Regions from separate parts of the Homo sapiens genome. Here region 2 is linked to region 1. The links come from fine-mapping of genetic effects on gene expression. Tissue or cell type: whole blood. Region 1 holds a variant in brackets; the other region holds the start of a gene. All regions are shown on one strand. Distances are between the middles of the regions.

What was found. PIP is the estimated chance that this variant, and not a neighbour inherited with it, causes the effect.
Region 2: it holds the start of MIR3936HG, and the variant in region 1 is fine-mapped to the expression of MIR3936HG in whole blood (INTERVAL, PIP 0.95).

Annotation. Positions count from the first base shown.
Region 1 is chr5:132,323,860-132,333,837 of GRCh38, forward strand. SLC22A4 (solute carrier family 22 member 4) reads left to right here. Exons shown (of 10, transcript NM_003059.3): 5 at 3,418-3,544; 6 at 7,897-7,991. It overlaps MIR3936HG (MIR3936 host gene), which reads right to left. Exons shown (of 8, transcript NR_110997.1): 7 at 8,330-8,451. Among named protein-coding and RNA genes, the nearest start is that of SLC22A4, 34 kb to the left of the region's middle. The variant CT/C (reference allele first, on the strand shown) is at 5,614.
Region 2 is chr5:132,365,048-132,375,025 of GRCh38, forward strand. It overlaps MIR3936HG (MIR3936 host gene), which reads right to left and starts at 4,869. Exons shown (of 8, transcript NR_110997.1): 1 at 4,797-4,869; 2 at 1,521-1,734. SLC22A5 (solute carrier family 22 member 5) reads left to right here and starts at 4,663. Exons shown (of 10, transcript NM_003060.4): 1 at 4,663-5,318. The coding sequence starts at 4,926. MIR3936 (microRNA 3936) reads right to left here and starts at 552; the gene lies at 443-552. RefSeq lists a silencer at 4,546-4,865.

The DNA.
Region 1 (9,978 bases):
TCTAGTTGTCATTTTGACCTAAGAGACCAGTACTTTCAAAATGTTATAATTAGCCAGGTATGGTGATTCACACCTGTAATCCCAGCACTTTGGGAGGCCAAGGTGGGAGGATCACTTTAGCCCAGCAGTTCAAAACCAGCCTGGGCAACATGGCAAAACCCTGTCTGTACTAAAAATAAAAAATTAGCTGGGTGCAGTGGTGAGCGCCTGTAGTCCCAGCTACTTAGGAGGCAGAGGTGGGAGGGTCCCTTGAGCCTGGGAGTTCAAGATTACAGTGCGCTATATGATCATGCCACTGCACTCCAGCCCAGATAGAATGAGATGCTGTCTCAAAAAAAAAGTTATAATCAATCTGATTAAGGTATGATTCTATCAGAGAGAAAGAGAGAGAGAGAATAACAATATAAAGCCTCTGATGGGCTGTACAGAGATTAGTAGGGATGGGATCTTTGCCTCGGGACCATATGTCACAGCGAGGAACGAACAGCTCTGATCCATTAGCCCTCCAGAGTCAGCCTCCAGAGTTTCCAGCAGAGAAGGTCCATCCCACAGGGAGCCTGCTCACTGTGCCCTAAGGAGAGCTTTTTCTTCTATTCCCCAGGAGCTGGTCCATGAATGCTCCTGGCTGTGGGCATACTGTACCAGGGACAGGACTTGCCCCAGACAGAGGCCAGCCTGGGACCAGCACTGACAAGCTGAGTGCTCCCCCTGAACATTTACCAGTGGTCTTACCATTTTCCTATAAAAGAAAATAGCTTTCTTCTGAACATCCCATCCTTGCAGGTGGGTCTTCCCAAAGGGATGCTCATCAGTCTAGTGGTTGGGGTATGGAGGGATGCTTAGAGCTGACATGGACCCTGCCGCCTGCTCAGTATGAGACAAGCTCTCCAGCAACACCTCACTGCTGTTTAGTCTGAATTCAATCTACAGAGAGATTATAGTGTGCTACCTCATTTGGCACTCCATTGACTTTTGAAATGATCAGCTAGATTTGAGATTATGTGCACCAAAAAAAAATCAAAGCAATTCAAAACTAGAGATACCAGTGGCCCTGAGTACAGTGGGCTAGAAATGGGAGGTAAACCTACATAGAGGCACTGCTGGTGGTTTGGGGGACTTTTTATGTCCCAAGTTTCCTTTAAAAGGCTTGGCAGTAAGTGGCCACAGGTGTGAATGGAGTATGTGTATAGGCGGTGGGGATGGGGTAGGGAAGCAGGCCATAGATGCAATGTGAGGAAAGCTATGCAATTTCTAGCTGATTAAACATTAAGAATCTGAGGCCAGTGGTCTGTAGAAAAAAAGGTAGGATATTTCTAAGCATAATCTGGTTGGAGAAAGATACTGGCCCCATCCATGAGGTATATCGTGGCTGTGTAGTAAGATCTCTAATTCTGCACTAATATAGTAGCCACCAGCCACATGCAGCTATTTAAGTTAAAATTAATTAAAAGTAAATAAAATTGAATTTTCATTTCTTCAATCACACTAGCTCAATAGCTACATGTGGTTAGTGGGTGCTGTCTTAGTACAGATACAGAACATTTCAGAAGTTTCTATCGGACAGCACAGTTCTAATTACTGAGAGTCAGTGACCTAACATTATTGTAGTTCCTATAGGGACCCACTAAAGGCATATTCTGAAAAATGCAAACTAGGCTCATTTTTCAACTCATGTGCTATTAAGCTGGAGAGGGGACCTGCTGGTTGGTCATTTGTTTTGCTCTGAGCTAATTCCTAGTGTGGGTTTGGGGCCAATTAACTACACAGGACTCTGTGTCTGCTACTTATAATTTGTTGTCTAGGCTAAGTAAGTACAGATGCTCTTTGACTTATAATGGGGTTACATCCCAATAAGCCCATTGTAAATTGAGAATATTCTAGGTCAATACACCTAACCTACTGAGGTAGGAGGCCAGACACGACTCCAGAGGCAGGGCTTGGACACTGGACCAAATTGAGGACCAGCTAAAACACAGCCAGGGCAGAAGACGCTTTCCATAAGACACGCCCACCCGTGTGCCATGTCAGTTTACTGTTGCCATGACAACACTCAGGCTTTATTGCCCCTTTCCATGGCAATGACCCAATGACCCAAAAATTACTACCCTTTCCCTAGAAATTTCTGCATAAACTGACCTTTCATCTACATGTAATTAAAAGTAGTTATAAATATGAGTGCAAAACTGTCCTGAGCTGCTACTCTCTGCCTGTGGGGCAGCCCTGCTCTGCAGGAGCAGTCACGGAGCTGTAACATTGCCTCTTCAATAAAGCTGTTTTCTTCCACCTCCAGTTTGCCCTTGAATTCTTTCCTGGGCAAAGCCAAGAACCCTCATGGGCCAAACCCCACTCTGGAGCTTGCCTGCCCTGCATCCCTACCAAATATCATAGCTCAGCCTGACCTACCTTAAACATGCTCAGAACACTTACATTAGCCTACAATTGGGCAAAATTTTCTAACACAAAACCTATTTTATAATTAAGTGTTGAATATTTCATGTAATTTATTAAATACTGTACTGAAAGTGAACAACAGAATGGCTGTATGTATGAGCACTCAAAGTAAGGTTTCTACTCAATGCATATCATTTTTCTCCTATAGTAGAAAAATCATAAGTCGAACCATCATAAGTTAGGGACCATCTGTACTGACAATAGGTAAGGAAAATGAGAGCTGACAGGAGAATGGCTAAAAGATTTTGAGAAATAAAAATTTAGAAAGAATAGAAGCCCTATTATTTGCAACTGTGTTTGAGCATCAGCTATAAATGGGAATAGACTATGTAATTTAAAACAATAAGCTTTTTTAGACATTAACAAAAAGACAACATTGGGGCTCATCTCCCAAAAGCTGGTTTGGGCACTCGCTGATCTGGGAATCTGTTGAAAGCCATGGGGGCCCCACACAGGCGGGTGTCAGTGCCCTCACTTTCTCTTTTGACTAAAGGAAACGATCAAGAACACAGGTGCCCTGGCCATCCTTTTCCCAATAAACTGTGAACATCACCAGCTGGGACACCAGCAATTCTCCTTAGGATGGACCCACTGCAAAGACAGTCTCTTCTCTAGGGGAACTTATAGTCTAGTAGCTATGTTTCTTTTATGAGCCACACTACCTATAAGTTTTGGATGAACTTCTCCAGAGCCCTGGCTCAAACATGCCCATAGTTAATGTCACCCCTTATGGTCTGGTCCTGGTCTCAAGCACAACTGATGATCGGTCTTATAATTTGATCAGAAGTTTGAAACTTGAAGGTGGTTTTATTTATTCCTATGCTCCAATAGAAATCTTATGTGGACTCCCTTTAAAAAGACAAACTAGAATTTTACAAAATTAAAACTATTTGGGGGAAACTCAGATTTAATAGTATCCAGCCCTGCTGTTGTGAAAAATTATTAAATATTAAAAATAAATTATAGGTTCATTCCTGAATCTCCCCGATGGCTGATATCCCAGAGAAGATTTAGAGAGGCTGAAGATATCATCCAAAAAGCTGCAAAAATGAACAACATAGCTGTACCAGCAGTGATATTTGATTCTGTGGAGGTAAGCATTTGCAGATGTTTCCTCTTGAGATCAGCTATGCATTCTTGATTTTATGGAATTTAACTTAATTCAATATTTGTTAAGTGCCCACTATGTACCAGGCATTGCACTAGGCCTTAGGAACACAATCATGATTAAATTCTAAGATAAAATCCACCTTAAAGGGCTGTTTATAAGAATTAAATGCAATAATATATGTAAACTGCTTAGCAAATAGCAAGCGTTCATTAAATATTAGTTTGCTTTATTTTGCAAGTTTATCATCAACTTTCTATTGGCATTGCTCCAAACCACTGACACAGCTATGTACTGATGATTTTTAAATGTCCAGATTAAGTGGAAAAATATGTTTCAGGGCTAGTCCACCCTGGGTTCTCCACTGTACCCTGAATCTTACCACAGACTGCTGAGGAAGCTATGCATGTCTTTAGTCTCACTCTGTGTCATGTCTAGAACCTTAAGGCCTGAAAGCACAGGCTTGAGGATTCACCCTTGAAAGCTGGTGGCCACAAGGAAAAGCTGATATTCTGTGGAAGCAGCCACACCTCCTGACAGTTCGTGAGGATATGCAGTGTGCCATGCCCTGTGCTGGCTCCTAGAGGAAATAAGAAAAGACACAGCCCAAATTCTAAAGGAACATAGAATGTAACTAAGATTGGCAAGAGGATTAGATAAAAAGATAAAGAATGGCATAAGGGAGGAAATGGTAAGTATCCAAGTAGAGACACTGTGTGCCAGCAATACAGAGAAAGATAGCAGGGTGGCCCATGGCTGGAGGCAGGTCCAAGCCAGGGAGGACAGCAGGACTCACTTAAATGAGTGGAGAGGATGGGGCAGGGCATTCCTGTCTAGGAGATAGGTAGGAGTCTGCTCAGGACACCTAAAAAAGACTGTGGTGGCTTCAGTAACATTATACATGCCCTGCACCAAAGCATGTAGTACAGAAAGCAGAACTCTGTAGAGGACGGTGGGCATGCCACTGCTCACCCCCACGGCTTCCCCAGTCCCTGGCCTTCAGGACCTTTTCCAGAAGCAGATACTCTGGCTATGGCTAGAGGCTTAGACTGGCCATGAACTCAAGCTCTCAGAGGGCTGCCAGGACAAAACATCCCTTAATCCTTTGCCCTTCAAATCAAGAAGTCCATTTCAAGTCTCAGTCAATTTAAATGGATAAAACAACAACAACAACAACAACAACAACATTGGGAGTGTCTAACACTTCTGCCCTTCAGGGCTGTGCTGGGGTGTTTATCGGTATTTATCAGCTAGGTGGCCTGATTCCTATCTGTGAAACTTAGAGTCTAGTTGTAGGGATCTACCTATGTGGATGACAGCAATCATAAAATAGATATGAGATATATAGTTATGGACAAATAAGAATATAGTTCAGTGTTAAAACACATGGTTCTGGCAGTGCCTTTATATATATATATATACACACACACACACACACACACACACACACGCATATATAAATGTGTATATATATGTGTGTATGTGTATATATATATATATATATATATATATACACACACACACTTTAAAAAAATTTTGAGTCTCACTGTTTTGCTCAGGCTAGAGTGCAGTGGTACAATTACAGCTCAATGTAGCCTCGACCTCGACCTTCTGGGCTCAAGCAATCCTCCCACCTCAACCTCCCAAGCTGGGACTACAGGCACTTGCCACCAAACCCAGCTAACATTTTGTATTTTTTTTTGTAGAGACAGGGTTTCACTATGTTGCCCAGGCTGGTCTCAAACTCCTGGGCTCAAGCAATCCTCCTACCTCAGCCTCCCATAATGCTAGGATTACAGATGTGAGCCATCATTCTCAGCCTGACAGTGCCTTCTTTCTTCCTGCCATGATGCACATCTAGCCTGAACTGGACAAACCCATTAAGGGAAAGGGGGCTTGCGCTTTCCTGAGGCCTGGTCATCTCCCCTGCTCACCTCCCGTAGGATCCTCTTTAGGAGGATCTGCAGAGCCCTGTGCCAGCAAATGCACCCTATTTAGAATGATATTGAAGAGCCTACCAAATGCCAGGCACTGTGTTCTGCTCATTGCTCATG[CT/C]TTTTTTTTTTTTCAAAAAAAGAAACTAAGGCACAGCGAAGTTAAGTAACTTGCCCAGGATCACACAGATGTTAAACTGGGATTTGTGACCTAGTTCTCCCAGGCACCAAAGTACATGCTCTTAACAACTGTGATTTTTCACTTCATGTTACAGGCAGTAGCATTAACTTGGATAGGAAAAGATATAGAGTAGAGTATTGTCTTAGAAAGCAATCTCAAGCATCCTTGGCTTCAGAAGAAGCACCTTCAACCTGCTTCTGGTACCTGATCCAAAGACATTTTGGTGGCTCCACCCAGGCCAGGGACAACCACTGGATACAAGCATATTCTTGTTCTGAGGTTTCCAATCCTGGCTGCTCATCACAATCACCCAAGTGCTTTAAGAATACAGATTCTCAGGCCTCTGTTTAAAAGAGTCGAAGTAGGCAAGCCCAGGGAGGAACCTGGCAACCTGCATTTAAGAAGGGCCCCGTGGAACCACCAAGTATTAGCACAGGACTGGTCCACAGGTCCTGTCTGTGTGCACCACCCTGGAACCCTCCAAGAAGATGTCTGGTTCCCACTAGTTTATGCAGTGGCTTTGCTTTGTTATAATACCAGGGTTATTCTGCTGGGGGCATGTTCTGGGGCTCTACAATCCAAATAGTGCAAGAGAGAAAAGGCAATGTGGCTGTGAGCTGTGTAAGTGTCTGATCATTCCTAGAAAAAAGGACACTCACATTTGGAGAGGACCTGCTGTGAAGGCAGGCCTGGCACTCCCACTTCTTCATAATAAAAACTCCTCCATCAGTCTCTTACTGCGCATGCACTGTAGGGCCACAAAGTCACAAAGTCCTGGTACTTCATCCCTGAGAGATTCCCCACCTCAGAGCCTAATAACTTTTATGTTAGTTTCAATTCTAATCAGCTTGGTTACCTTGATTCATAACTCATAGCAAGTTAATATCAGCAAATTAAAAGCAAAAGAATAGGCCGGGCGCAGTGGCTCACACCTGTAATCCCAGCACTTTGGGAAGCTGAGGTGGATGGATCACCTGAAGTCAGGAGTTTGAGACCAGCCTGGCCAATATGGCGAAACCCCATCTCTACTAAAAATACAAAAATTAGCCAGGTGTGGTGGCAGGTGCCTGTAATCCCAGCTACTCAGGAGGCTGAGGCAGGGGAATTGCTTGAACCTGGGAGGCGGAGGTTGCAGTGAGCTGAGATCGCGCCACTGTACTCCAGCCTGGGCAACAAGAGTGAAACTCCCTCTCAAAAAACAAACAAGAAAATAAATATAAATAAAAGTAAAAGAGTATAAACCCATTGATAGCAGTAAGGATTTGTCACTGACCGCTGATGGCTAGCCTCTTTTCCTCAATGATACAGTAATAATAATAATAGTTTAAATTTACTGGACATTTACCATGGTTCAAGCACTGTGCTAAGCTATATATATATGATCTCATTTAATCTCTCAACTCCCAATTAATATACCCATTTTATATAGCAGTAAGCTGAAGTTCAGAGAGGATCGTTACTTGCCCAAGGCCCGCCAGTAAACTGAAGTCTGTTCTGATGCTAAATGACTACAACAAGAGAAGTGTAAAAAGCAAGGCTGGGTAATCCCAGCACTTTGGGAGGCCAAAGTGGGCAGACTGCTTGAGGCCAGGAGTTTGAGACCAACCTGGCCAACATGGTGAAACCCAGTCTCTACAAAAAATGCAAAAATTAGCCAGATGCGGTGGTGCTCGCCTGTAATCCCAGCTACTCAGGAGGCTGAGAGGCAGGAGAATCGCTTGAACCTGGGAGGTGGAGGTTGCAGTGAGCTGAGATCACACCACTGCACTCCAGCCTGGGCCACAGAGCTAGACTCCATCTAAAAAAAACAAACAAATAAACAGAGAAGTGTAAAAAGCAGACGTGGCCTCAAGGAAGGGACTACATGGCCCTACCCTTCAATAGGCAGTCCTGAGGATCACAGATCAGTGTGGTAAATGACATCCATTCTCTGACTGTCAGTCAGAGAAAGGCTATGTTAGCCAACAGGCTTTGTCTAACGAGACAGGGAAGGGGGTGTTATATATTTAAAAGGCTTCTGTGTAAAATGGACTACAAACATTTTAAAGTGTCAGAGTAAGTGTCATATATGTAGATGCCCTATTGCCTCCAATCACCAGACTTCTAAGCATAGTCAAGGTGAAGTGAGAGTTGCATGCATAAGTTTTCCCCATGCATCATAGCCAAAGATACTTCCTTACTACCTCTTAATCTCATGGTTATTTGCATTATTTTGGTTACAGGAGCTAAATCCCCTGAAGCAGCAGAAAGCTTTCATTCTGGACCTGTTCAGGACTCGGAATATTGCCATAATGACCATTATGTCTTTGCTGCTATGGTAAGTAATAAGTGACCTGGAAATGCAGATATCCAGCACATAAGTATGCAACTGATTTTCTTAACTCAGAGGAACATTATGACAACGACTGGGTTTTCCTGAGGAAAAATTAAGATTATAAAATTCTAAATTATTTTGAAATGCCTCTATTCAGTTCATGGGACTAGATATTGAAAAATGTCACTGGGCGCAATGGCTTACGCCTGTAATTCCAGCACTTTGGGAGGCCAAGGTGGGCAGATCACCTGAGGTCAGGAGTTCGAGACGAATCTAGCCAACATGGTGAAACCCCGTCTCTACTAAAAATACAAAAATTACCTGGGCATGGTGGCACATACCTGTAATCCCAGCTACTTGGGAGGCTGAGGCAGGAGAATCACTTGAACCCAGGAGGTGGAGGTTCCAGTGAGCCTTGATCGCACTACTGTACTCCAGCCTGGGCAGCAGAGCAAGACTCCATCTAAAAAAAAAAAAGTCACAGGGTACAGTATTTAAGTCTGCAGTACTGGGACCCAAAGGGAAAGCATTCCCTTCCCCCTCCTAAAGTTATGGGATTGAGATCATTGATGTCCCTGGGTAATGGTTCCCTCCCCACCAAAAATTATGAGATTAAGACTAATGATGTCCGTGTTGCCTGAGGCAGAGATGCTAATTCAGCTCCTGCTTCCTGAAGCTGACCTGGCAATTGAACACTGAGGCTAGAATAACCTAGATCCCCATTGCCTGGATTGGAGCCTTGATCAGCTTTTTACACGTGCCAATAGCAAACTAACAAGTGGCTTTCAGGCGCAGAAATACTGAATTGGCTTTATAGATTAGATTTAATAATTTATCTGCCAAGAAAAAAGGAAAAAAGAAAATTCCTACTCTATGATGGCAGCACACACACACACACACACACACACACACACACACACGATGATCGTCAGAACTGGTAGATTTAGGCTGCAGCTAATCTAAGTTTATTTTTAAGGGCCATCCTACTTGGCAATTAGAAGAGATCAATGACAGAGCTTATGCGTCTGAATTAAGCAAGTGTGTCCTAGGTACATGGGCTTCTTAGTTCTTACATTTCAGCCTATATCCCTGATGCAAATGTTCTTGGGTAGTGGTGCTACTAAGCTAATAAAAAATTAGTCACTAGTTCTATCTAAACTACTCCTATTACTAAATGGGAAAATCACTAAGATCCCTTGAGCATACTTATTTGTTGTGTTTATGAATTAGTCCTTGTATTATCTAATTTGGGTCTAGTATGTGTAAAAAGATCCACTAGTGTTCCTGAAGTCATTTTTCAGATATCCTCTGCTTCTCAGTCATGTTAATAATAAGCAAATTTCTACACAGGGGTGTCTGCATAGTGCAGTTGTAACAAAAACTCAGGTTCAGTCACTCACAGCTTGCAGCGTCCAATTAACAAGAGCAAAGTCTGATGTAAGGAAAGTGACTTTTTATTCCAAAGCTAGCTTAGGGAGAAAGGTATCGGCTTCCTGCCTGAAGGGTACCACCGCTCCTCTTTTTGAAGCGGAAAGCAGGCACTTCTAAAAGGCAGGGGAGGACGCGAGCAGGTGAGGGATCAGAGGGCTAGCTTGCTGCCTTATCTACTGGGCAGTTGAGGTGGTGCCTTCATGGGCAGAAACAGGTTGTATAGGTGGCCAAAAACTCTAGCAGGCATACTTTGAGTTGGAAATTGACTGATATCGCTTGAGGAAATCTGGGCGGTGAGAGTTCCACTCTGGAGCTTCTAAGCACATAGTTAGATGAATTTGCCCTGCAGGGAGTGTCCAGTGAAGAGGAGGTTAAAAGGCTATAATTGCACTTCTAAAGAGCTAAGTAGAAAGTGCAGAAAAGGAGGAAAGAGAAAAGAAGAGAGAGAGAAAATAAACTATCTCTTAGAAAAATGGGGGTACTCAGTTACATAGTTATTTTTCCACAGAGAAGCTTCTTTTTTTTATTTATGTTTTTATTTTTTTGAGATAGAGTTTCG
Region 2 (9,978 bases), 41 kb after region 1:
GCCGGGCCTGGTGGTGGGCACCTGTAATCCCAGCTACTTGGGAGGCTGAGACAGCAGAATCACTTGAACCCAGGAGGCGGAGGTTGCAGTGAGCCGAGATTGCACCATTGCACTCCAGCCTGGGCAACAAGAGCAAAAACTCTGTCTCAAAAAAACAAAAACAAACAAAAAACACCATGCAGTTTATATAACATTTTTACTTAACACCTTTCCCCTAGCAACCTCCACCAGGCAACCTTCATTTAACCTAAAACAAAGGGCTTTGATCGCCTCGTAGGGCCTGCATTCTACAGGATGGGCTGGGGGTGGGAGCAGTTCAGAAGTTCGTCATAGATAAGAAATGAAATATCTGGGTTGGCCACTCCCAGATTCCTTAGCTTGGAGCTCTGAACACACATTCTTCTTAGACCATAGGGTCATTCTTCAGGTATGCATAAGTTATTGCTGCCAAGTGCATCTGTCGGGTGCATCTGCCATACACCCCTTACCAGAAGCGTCCAAACACGGATTTGAGGGATCTACAGCAGACACTGGACAGATGCTCTGAATCATTCTCTACTCTGATGCTGAAGCTATAATATTGGACTAAGCTTGGGCCTTCTACTCTTTTCTTTCTTTCTTTTTTTTTTTTTTGAGACGGAGTCTTACTCTGTTGCCCAGGCTGGAGTGCAGTGGCGCGATCTCGGCTCACTGCAACCTCCACCTCCCAGGCTCAGGCAATCCTCTCACCTCAGCCTCCTGAGTAGCCGGGACTACAGGCGCGTGCCACAATTGGCTAATTTTTGTATTTTTAGTAGAGACAGGGTTTCACCATGTTCCTTAGGCTGGTCTCAAACTCCTGACCTCAGGTGATCCACCCTCCTCAGCCTCCCAAAATGCTGGGATTACAAGTATGAGCCACCGCACCCAGCCTATTCTTTTCTTAAAGGAGGAGGCCTTCCCTTCCTCAGGCAAGTAATTGCTGACTACTCCAGCCTACATAACGTCCAGACATATCCAAATCTGTGGAGAACACAAAGTTCTTAAGGTATTTATTTAGAGTCAATAATCAAAGTAAAACTAATAATTATAGCTAATATTTAGTTTGTAGTTAATATATGCTAGGAGCTCGAGCTAAGCACTACCATCCCAGGAAACTGAGGCTTAAAACACTTTTAAAATTTGCTCAAGCTCACAAGCTTGGAATTGAAGAAGAAAGCAATTGAATATTGGTCTTTCTTCTATCATACATCCAGAGGCTCTGCACTTAATCAATACAACATACTGTCTCTTATTGCACAAGTAACTACAAGGTTCATCTGTAAAATTCTATTCTGTAGAATAGAAGGGAAAACAAATTAAGGAATTACAGATGTTTATTCTTCTGAGCTTTAATTTAACGTATTGTTTGATTCAAATAATTTATATATTAGCTATCTATTGCCACATAACATAATACCTCAAAATTTACCATTTTAAAACAACCAACATTCATTATTTCTCAGAGTTTCTGAGGATCAGGAATCTGGGAGCCACTTAACTGAGTGGTTCTGGTCCAGAAGACTCTCATGAAGTTGCAGTCAAGCTGTCAGTAGTCATCTCGACACCCAACTGATGCTGAAGGAGCTACTTCCAAGCTCACTCAAGGTTGTTGGTGGGCCTCAGTTCCTCATTAAATGTTGGCTAGAGACTTCATTCCTTGACATCACATGGACCCCTCAAAGGGCTGCTTATAACATGACAGCTTGCTTGTCTCTGAGCAAGAGAAAGGGAAAAGAACACCCATGATGGACATCTTTTATAATGTAATTACCCAAGTGATATAAGTATCATCACTAATGCTGTATGCTTTTGGTCACATAGACCAATCCTGGTACAGGGATCATTCATTGGGTGCCATCTTGGAGGCAAGCTACCACATCTGCCAGGGTATGAATGCATTTAATCTAAAGTTCTAGCCCTGAACTGTAGGGTTATCTACCATATAAATCAGTTTTACATTTTTTAATATGTAAAATAGGAACATCCCAATTCAGAATATTGCAGGATAAAGGGCCTCAGGTAACTGATTAAGATTCTAAGCTCTCTTTCTCTTTTAAAAGATGAAATTTAAGGCTGGGTATGGTGGCTCCTACCTATAATCCCAGTACTTTGGGAGGCCAAGACGGGGGGATCACTTGAGGTCAGGAATTTGAGACCAGCTTGGCCAAAATGGCAAAACCCTGTCTCTACCAAAAATACAAAAAAAATAGCTGGGTGTAGCGGCGCGTGGCTGTAGTCCCAGGCACTTGGAAGGCTCAGGTGGGAGGATTGCTTGAGCCCAGGAGGTTGAGGCTGCAGTGAGCCAAGACCACCTCACTGCACTCCAGCCTGGGTGACAGAAGGAGACCCTGTCTCAAAAAAAAAATGCAATTTAAATAGTAATGGCATTCAGATAGTAATCACAGTGCACCTGGAACTGGACGGCACCATCTTAGGTTGCTCTCTGCTTTGCGCATGTGGACAAGCCATCTATGACAAATAGTTTCTTTTCTTCCTAAGGATATGCAGCTTCTTTTGTAGTATACTGCATTGTTTTCAGTCCCTTTCAGGAATGTTATCTGATGCCCAACTGATATTTCTCAAATGTTAAAATAAGACTTCTTCATCTTGTTTGGTCTGGACAGAGGTCAACATTCTTCTCATAAAAGCTTTCATTTCTTTTGAAGCATTAAAATAATATTTTAGCACACAAAAAAGGAGTTTATTTTCAAGAAGCTTTGCTTTCTTTTTCAGTTAGTTCTAGATAAGAACTATAACTTCACATAAGATGTTAGAAGGATTTAAGTACATTGCTGAAGGTATAACCATCCATCTTCAGGAAGTAAGAATAGTGAATAGTAAGTATAAAGAAACAAACAAGTCCTGTGATAACATCTTTATCATAATTTTTTTAAGTCTATTATGCTTTATGCAAATGTTTAGATTTCCTTGTTAAAAATCTGCTGGCCAGGTTAGGTTCCCTTTCTGTAGCTTTATTTTCAACTCATAATATAGTGACTATTAAATATTCTTTACTCAACACATTATATTGTAAAAATATACACTTAGTTCTGTTTCTATCACTAAGCCACTACTATTTTAAAAAGGAATATCTTGCATTGTTAAGTTTAGCAGCCCAAATTCTTAAAGGCCTTAGGAATGGTGCTGTCCAATAAGATAACCAATAGCTACATGTGGCTACTGAGCACTTAAAAAATGAGTCTGGCCAGGCATAGTGGCTCACGTCTGTAATTCAGCATTTTGGGAGGCTGAGGTGGGAGGATTGCTTAAACCCAGGAGTCTGAGACCAGCCTGGGCAACACAGGGATGCCTTGTCTCTGTAAAATAAAAAAAATAAAAAAATTAGCTGGGCACGGTGGCATGTGCCTGTAGTCCTAGCTACTCAGCAGGCTGAGGCAGGAGGCCCACTTAAGCTTAGGAGTTCAGGGCTGCGGTGAGCTATGATTGTGCCACTGCACTCTAGCCTGGGTGACACAGTGGGACCGTGTCTCCAATAAATAAATGAATAAATAAATATTAAAAAATAAAAAGTGTGGCTAGTCCAAATTGAAATGTGCTGTAAAATACACACTGGATTCCTTTTTTTTTTTTTTTCAAATCCTGAGAACCTGTGAAACACACTGAATTCTTAAGATTTAGTATGAGGAGGGGAAAAAAAGATCAATGATTTACATATAACAATGTAAAATATCAATAATTTCTATATTGATTATATGATGAAATGATCATGTTCTGGATATACTTGATTAAATATACCATTAAAGTTAATTTCATCTTTTATTTTTACTTTTTAAATATGCAGCATTGCCCAATAAAATACAGGACAACCAGTTACATTTTTATTTTATATATTCCTGCTTGGGACATAATATTTAAAAATTATTCATTCTATATCTGAAATTCAAATTTAACTAGGAGTCCTATATTTTTATTTGCTAAATCTGGCAATTTTATTAATATGGCTACTAGAAAAGTTAACATAACAAATGTAGCTCCTTATCCTATGGAACATTGCTGCTTTAGAATCACCTCGCTGCTTTTTTTTTTTTTCCAGTTAGCTTCTGAATAAACTCTGCACGGAAATAACTAATCTGTGGGGAATATTTAACCCTAGGCTAGGATCGTTAATCGTGAAGTTAAATTTTTACATCTGCATGAACAAAATGGCTTGTTACAGACGAAAATGTGGAAAGGGCATCTGGACTAGAATGAAAAGTCATAGCTCCCAGCCTCTCTACTAGGGTAGTTAACAGTCCCAGGTTCAAAATAATCCCCGTCCCTCTTATAAGATTAGGCGGTGTCAAGAGCAACTATCTGTGAGACCCTGGGCCAGTGACTTTCTCCTTACCTCCGCCCCCAAGTAGGCCTTGCAAAAAGCTGGGAGGGGTGCGTTTTCAACACTGGAGCTTCGCGGCCGCTCTCCCACTCGCTCCCCGCCCGGCGCTAGAGGAGCGAGTTCGGACTCGGACCCCAAGGCCTCGAGTCCCGCTGCCTTCCTAAGCCGAGCCCGGGCTACCTCGGTCGTCCCCAGCAGGCTTGGCTGGCAGAGGCCGGGCCTCGCCAGGTCCCCAGGACAGGCCCCGCCCGGGCCTCAGGTGCACTCCCGGCCCGCCCCGCGCCCTCGCGTCCCGCCCCAGCTCCGCCTTCGCCGGCGCCGCTCTGCCTGCCAGCGGGGCGCGCCTTGCGGCCCAGGCCCGCAACCTTCCCTGGTCGTGCGCCCTATGTAAGGCCAGCCGCGGCAGGACCAAGGCGGCGGTGTCAGCTCGCGAGCCTACCCTCCGCGGACGGTCTTGGGTCGCCTGCTGCCTGGCTTGCCTGGTCGGCGGCGGGTGCCCCGCGCGCACGCGCAAAGCCCGCCGCGTTCCCCGACCCCAGGCCGCGCTCTGTGGGCCTCTGAGGGCGGCATGCGGGACTACGACGAGGTGACCGCCTTCCTGGGCGAGTGGGGGCCCTTCCAGCGCCTCATCTTCTTCCTGCTCAGCGCCAGCATCATCCCCAATGGCTTCACCGGCCTGTCCTCCGTGTTCCTGATAGCGACCCCGGAGCACCGCTGCCGGGTGCCGGACGCCGCGAACCTGAGCAGCGCCTGGCGCAACCACACTGTCCCACTGCGGCTGCGGGACGGCCGCGAGGTGCCCCACAGCTGCCGCCGCTACCGGCTCGCCACCATCGCCAACTTCTCGGCGCTTGGGCTGGAGCCGGGGCGCGACGTGGACCTGGGGCAGCTGGAGCAGGAGAGCTGTCTGGATGGCTGGGAGTTCAGTCAGGACGTCTACCTGTCCACCATTGTGACCGAGGTGGGTGCCGGCCCCTGCTGGGGCTGAGACCAGGGCTCGGAGGACCTGTCGCGGTCCTTGAACCCGAGCTCCTCTCTCCCAGATGCGCACTGGACGCTGTCACTCCCCCTCCCCCAACGGTCAACACCCTAGCGATGGAGACCCTCCAGCCAGGTGGCTTGGGAACGCTTCACGAGGTGACCTCCAGCCACAGTGTGCTCCTCCCTGCACAGGTGGTCAGTCTGGCCTCCCGTCCTGATGGCCACTTTGAAGAGGGTACCAGGAAGGTCCTGGCGGTCCCTGGGCGATGCTCTATGGCCCTGTGTGTCCAGGACTTACTCTAGTTGGGGTTGGGGGTGGTAAGTAGCAGAGCCAGGACTTGGGCCAGGGGCTATCCCGTTTTTCCTCTAGTCTCTTGATTTCTTTTTAGAAGAGAAGAAATACTTCTCTTTCCTGAACTTTTAAAAGTTAAATAAAGCATGTGTATACAACTGCCTCTTCCCTTTTTCCTCTAGTTACTCCTTCCCCTACCGTCCACAACCCAAAAACGACAATCTGGTCATGCCCTGTAAGTAATTGTTTGCCTTTTCCCATGGTCAGTTGTCAGTCTTTTTTTTTTTTGAGACAGAGTCTCCCTCTGTCACCAGGCTGGAGCGCAGTCGTGTGTTCTTGGCTCACTGCAACCTTCGCAGTCGTGCGTTCTTGGCTCACTGCAATCTTCGCCTTCCGGGCTCAAGTGATTCTCCTGCCTCAGTCTCCGAGTAGCTGTGAGCCACGACGCCCAGCTAATTTTTGTGTTTTTAGTAGAGACGGGGTTTCACCGTGTTGGCCAGGATGGTCTCGATCTCTTGACCTCGTGATCTGCCTGCTTCTGCCTCCAAAGCTGGGATTACAACCGTGAGCCACCACGCCAGGCCGTCAGTTGTCACTCTTTAAGATCCATTCATCTGAAGATGGGTTCAGGGTGACTTGTTGACCTGGAATATTTTCTCAGGTATTATGAGGCAAGGCTGTCGGCCAGATTTAGTTAAAGCATACAGCCTTAGGTCATAGGGTGTAGGGGAGCCTTTCTCATTTCTCATCCCCTTGGATTTTCCCTCTGGGTGGTTTTGTCTGTCCCCTCCGAACCTGTTGGAGCAGTTGTTGGAGCTGGATGTAGGAACATGATGTTAATGATGTATGTGTTTTGTGTCTTTTTTAGACACTGGCACTCTAGCTCCCTGAAGTTTCAGCAGCATTGAGTAAGTAGCCAGTGAATAGCCCTCATTGATAGATAGGCTCACTAAATGTGCAGATGACCAATTCGCAGGTTAGAGAAGGCTTCCCAGAAGAGGAGGCCTCTCCGTGAGCCTAGGGTGTTCAGCTCAGCATAATAGTGAGCTGAAGGCCCCAGTGCAGCAGCAAGAAACCACCCAGCAGGACGGCGGAGTTCACAGAGAGGGGAGAGTTCATAGAGAGGGAGAGTGCCACAGGCCCTGGCACAGCTTCAAGCCCTGCTGGATGTTGGTGCTGAGCCTCCCCTCCTGGAGCCTCAGAGGGGCTTACAGGGGCTCTGGAGATCCCAACTGTGTTGCTTCTTGGCGTCATCACCCTTCAATGGAGTCTGAGAGCTACCCTGGGAGATCCAAGTGTGTGTGCATGTGTGTGTTTTTTCTTTTTGGAAATTTGATGTCCCCAGCATTTGGACCTGCTTTCTCCACATATATGTAGTGGGAGTGTGACCGGAGCCCCACTGGGATTTCTTAGCTAGTGACATAGCTTCAGTGTCCAGAGGCATCATGGCTTGACAAAAGAGGCACTCCTTGGAGGTAGCCAACTGTGCTTTCTGGCCCATGAATCCACAGGAAATTGGAACCTTCAGTTGCCACAAATCCTGGGTCCTAGCCTCACAGGTGGGTGTGTTACCTTCCCGGAAGCCAGTGAGTACTATGAAAGCAGAGGCTGTCCCTGAGGTTGCAGGCAGAGGCCACAGAGGGGAACATGACACAGGAATCCCTACAAATTCTACTTGGGGCTGCCTAAAGAAGAGGGAAGTAGTGAAGCAAGAAGAAGCACATGGCATCTCTTGGAGTTTTACATTGACCCCTGAGGGTTCCCCGGCTTACTCTAGTCACTTGTTCCTGCTTTGCTGCCTCCATCCCACATTGGGCTGAGTGATGGTGGCATTGATGAGCTCCCAAAGGCCAGCTGTGCCAGGGGGTCTGACCTTATCTTGCTGCCAATGTCAGCCTTTTGTTTTTTAATATTTAGACTATTTATTTAGCTGTCTTAGCAGTTTCAAAGGAGTTATGTGCCCTTTCACCTACTTATATGTTGTCAGTCTTTGCAGGGAGGCCAGATTAATGCTTAGATCTTTGTTTTGGGCTACTGGAATGCTTGACTTGAAGTTCAGAGCTGCTTGTTCCCAGGTGAACAGCTACTGCTGGAAGTTGCTGCATCAACATTCTAATGGCTTTTTCTATGGCCTGTTGTCTTTCAACCCAAACCTGGCCTGCTGACCACTGCATCTAGTCCCATGCCTGCTAAATGTCTCTAAGCCTGCCCTCTGCCCCAAATCATACATAAAGGTGTTTGTAAGTACACTGGTATTGAATTACTAGTCATATTTTTTCCACTGAAGACTGGAACCTCAGGTGTCCTGTTTGGATTTTTTTAATTTGTTCAAGTTAAAGTACATACATGTAGTACCAAACTTTGTGGTGGATTTAGATCTTTGCGTCTTCCTCAATTTCTGACACAATTCTGGATGCAGAGGGAGGTTCTCAGGAAAATTTTTATTGAATGAGTTAATGAATAATTTAAGAAATCATCTCTAAAGTTTGAGAACTAAAGAAAAATAGTTCAGTTCTTAGAAGGGAAACTTGAGGGTGGCTGAAAAGGATTGACTGGAATTTTTTAAAGGAAATGTGACTCCCCCTGCCCACTGACTGGGGCTTTGATGCCACATGGATGTGGAATGAGGTGTTGGGATTGGCAGAGGGAATCTGCTAGCAATTAATAAATAAATATTGGCAGGGCGTGGTGGCTCACGCCTGTAATCCCAGCACTTTGGGAAGCCAAGGCAGCAGGTCACTTGAGGTCGGGAGTTCAAGACCAGTCTGGCCAACATGGTGAAACTCCATCTCTACTAAAAATACAAAAATTAGCTGGGTGTGGTGGCACATGCCTGTATTCCCAGCTACTTGGGAGACTGAAGCAGGAGAATCGCTTGAACCCAGGAGGCGGGCTTTGCAGTGAACCGAGATCGAGCCTCTGCACTCTAGCCTGGGCGACAAAGCGAGACTCCATCTCAAAAGAATAATAATAATATTAATAAATAAAAATGATTTATGAGGTAAAAGAGTTTTATGCCCCCATGTTCCAGGAATAGTTTGGTGGTCCACATGGTTCTCGGCTGGCCTCTCCTCTGGCCCCTCAGTCATCCCTGGGGTACTGGGGAATTAGCCAACCCATCATGCAGTGCTTCTTGGCCATGGACTGCCCCATCTGCTGGAAACCTGGGTTGTTTCTGAGGTTGTCTGGGCTGTCCGCTCTTTGGTTTCACCATAGCTCTGTCCAGCCTATGGACAGACAGGTTCCTTGAGAAACTTCCGGCTGGGTGTGGTGGCTCATGCCTGTAAACCCAGCACTTTGGGAGGCTGAGGCAGGTGGATCACAAGGCAGGAGTTCGAGACCAGCCTGGCCAACATGGTGAAACCTCGTATCCGCTAAAAATACAAAAATTAGCCCTGCGTGGTGGTGGGTGCCTGTAATCCCAGCTACTCGGGAGGGAGGCTGAGGCAGGAGAATTTCTTGAACCTGGGAAGTGGGGGTTGCAGTAGCCAAGATCGCACCATTGCATGCCAGCCTGGGTGACAAGAGCAAGACTCCGTCTCAAAAAAAAAAAAGAAAAAGAAAAGAAACTTCCAAGCTGCTCTGCATCGCCTTGCTCTCCACCTGTCTGCTTCTAAGAAGCCCTCGGCCCAGTCCTGGGTGGGACTCCCACTCCCTCCCCATTGTCCTGGACTAGCTTTTCTATCAGCCTTATCTTGTGTAGAGACAGATAGTCTTAGAAGATGGGAGAGCCCTCACTGTTATCCCCAAAGCTGCCTGGAGGAAAAGCCAGAGCAACCTGGGAGCTGGGACCGGGGCTGACTCTGGGCAGCAGAGACCCGAGAGACCTGGAGCTTGAACCTCACTGTTACGCCTTTGTTGATTTCTCTCACTCAGGGGACACACAGACCCTCATCCAGCCTTTTGCAGCTATATGGCAAGGCAGAGAAGCCACTTGCGGGGTCCCGTGGCCCACTATGCACGTACATAGTAGACACATCTGGCCATGAGTGGTCAGATTGAGCCACTCTCTAGCTAGCTGACACCTGTAATCCTGGGTCAAATTTCTGACAGTTGACACAAAGCAGGGGGTCAGGGAGCCAAAAAAAAAAAAAATGGCCAGGTGTGGTGGCTCTTGCCTGTAATCCCAGGGCTTTGGGAGGCCAAGGTGGGCAGATAACCTGAGGTCAGAGTTCAAGACCAGCCTGGTCAACATGGCAAAACCCCGTCTCTACTAAAAATACAAAAATTAGCCAGGCTGGTGGTGCATCCCTGTAGTCCCAGCCACTCAGGAGGCTGAGGCATGAGAATCACTTGAACCCAGGAGGTGGAGGTTGCAGTGAGCCGAGATTGTGCCACTGCACTCCAG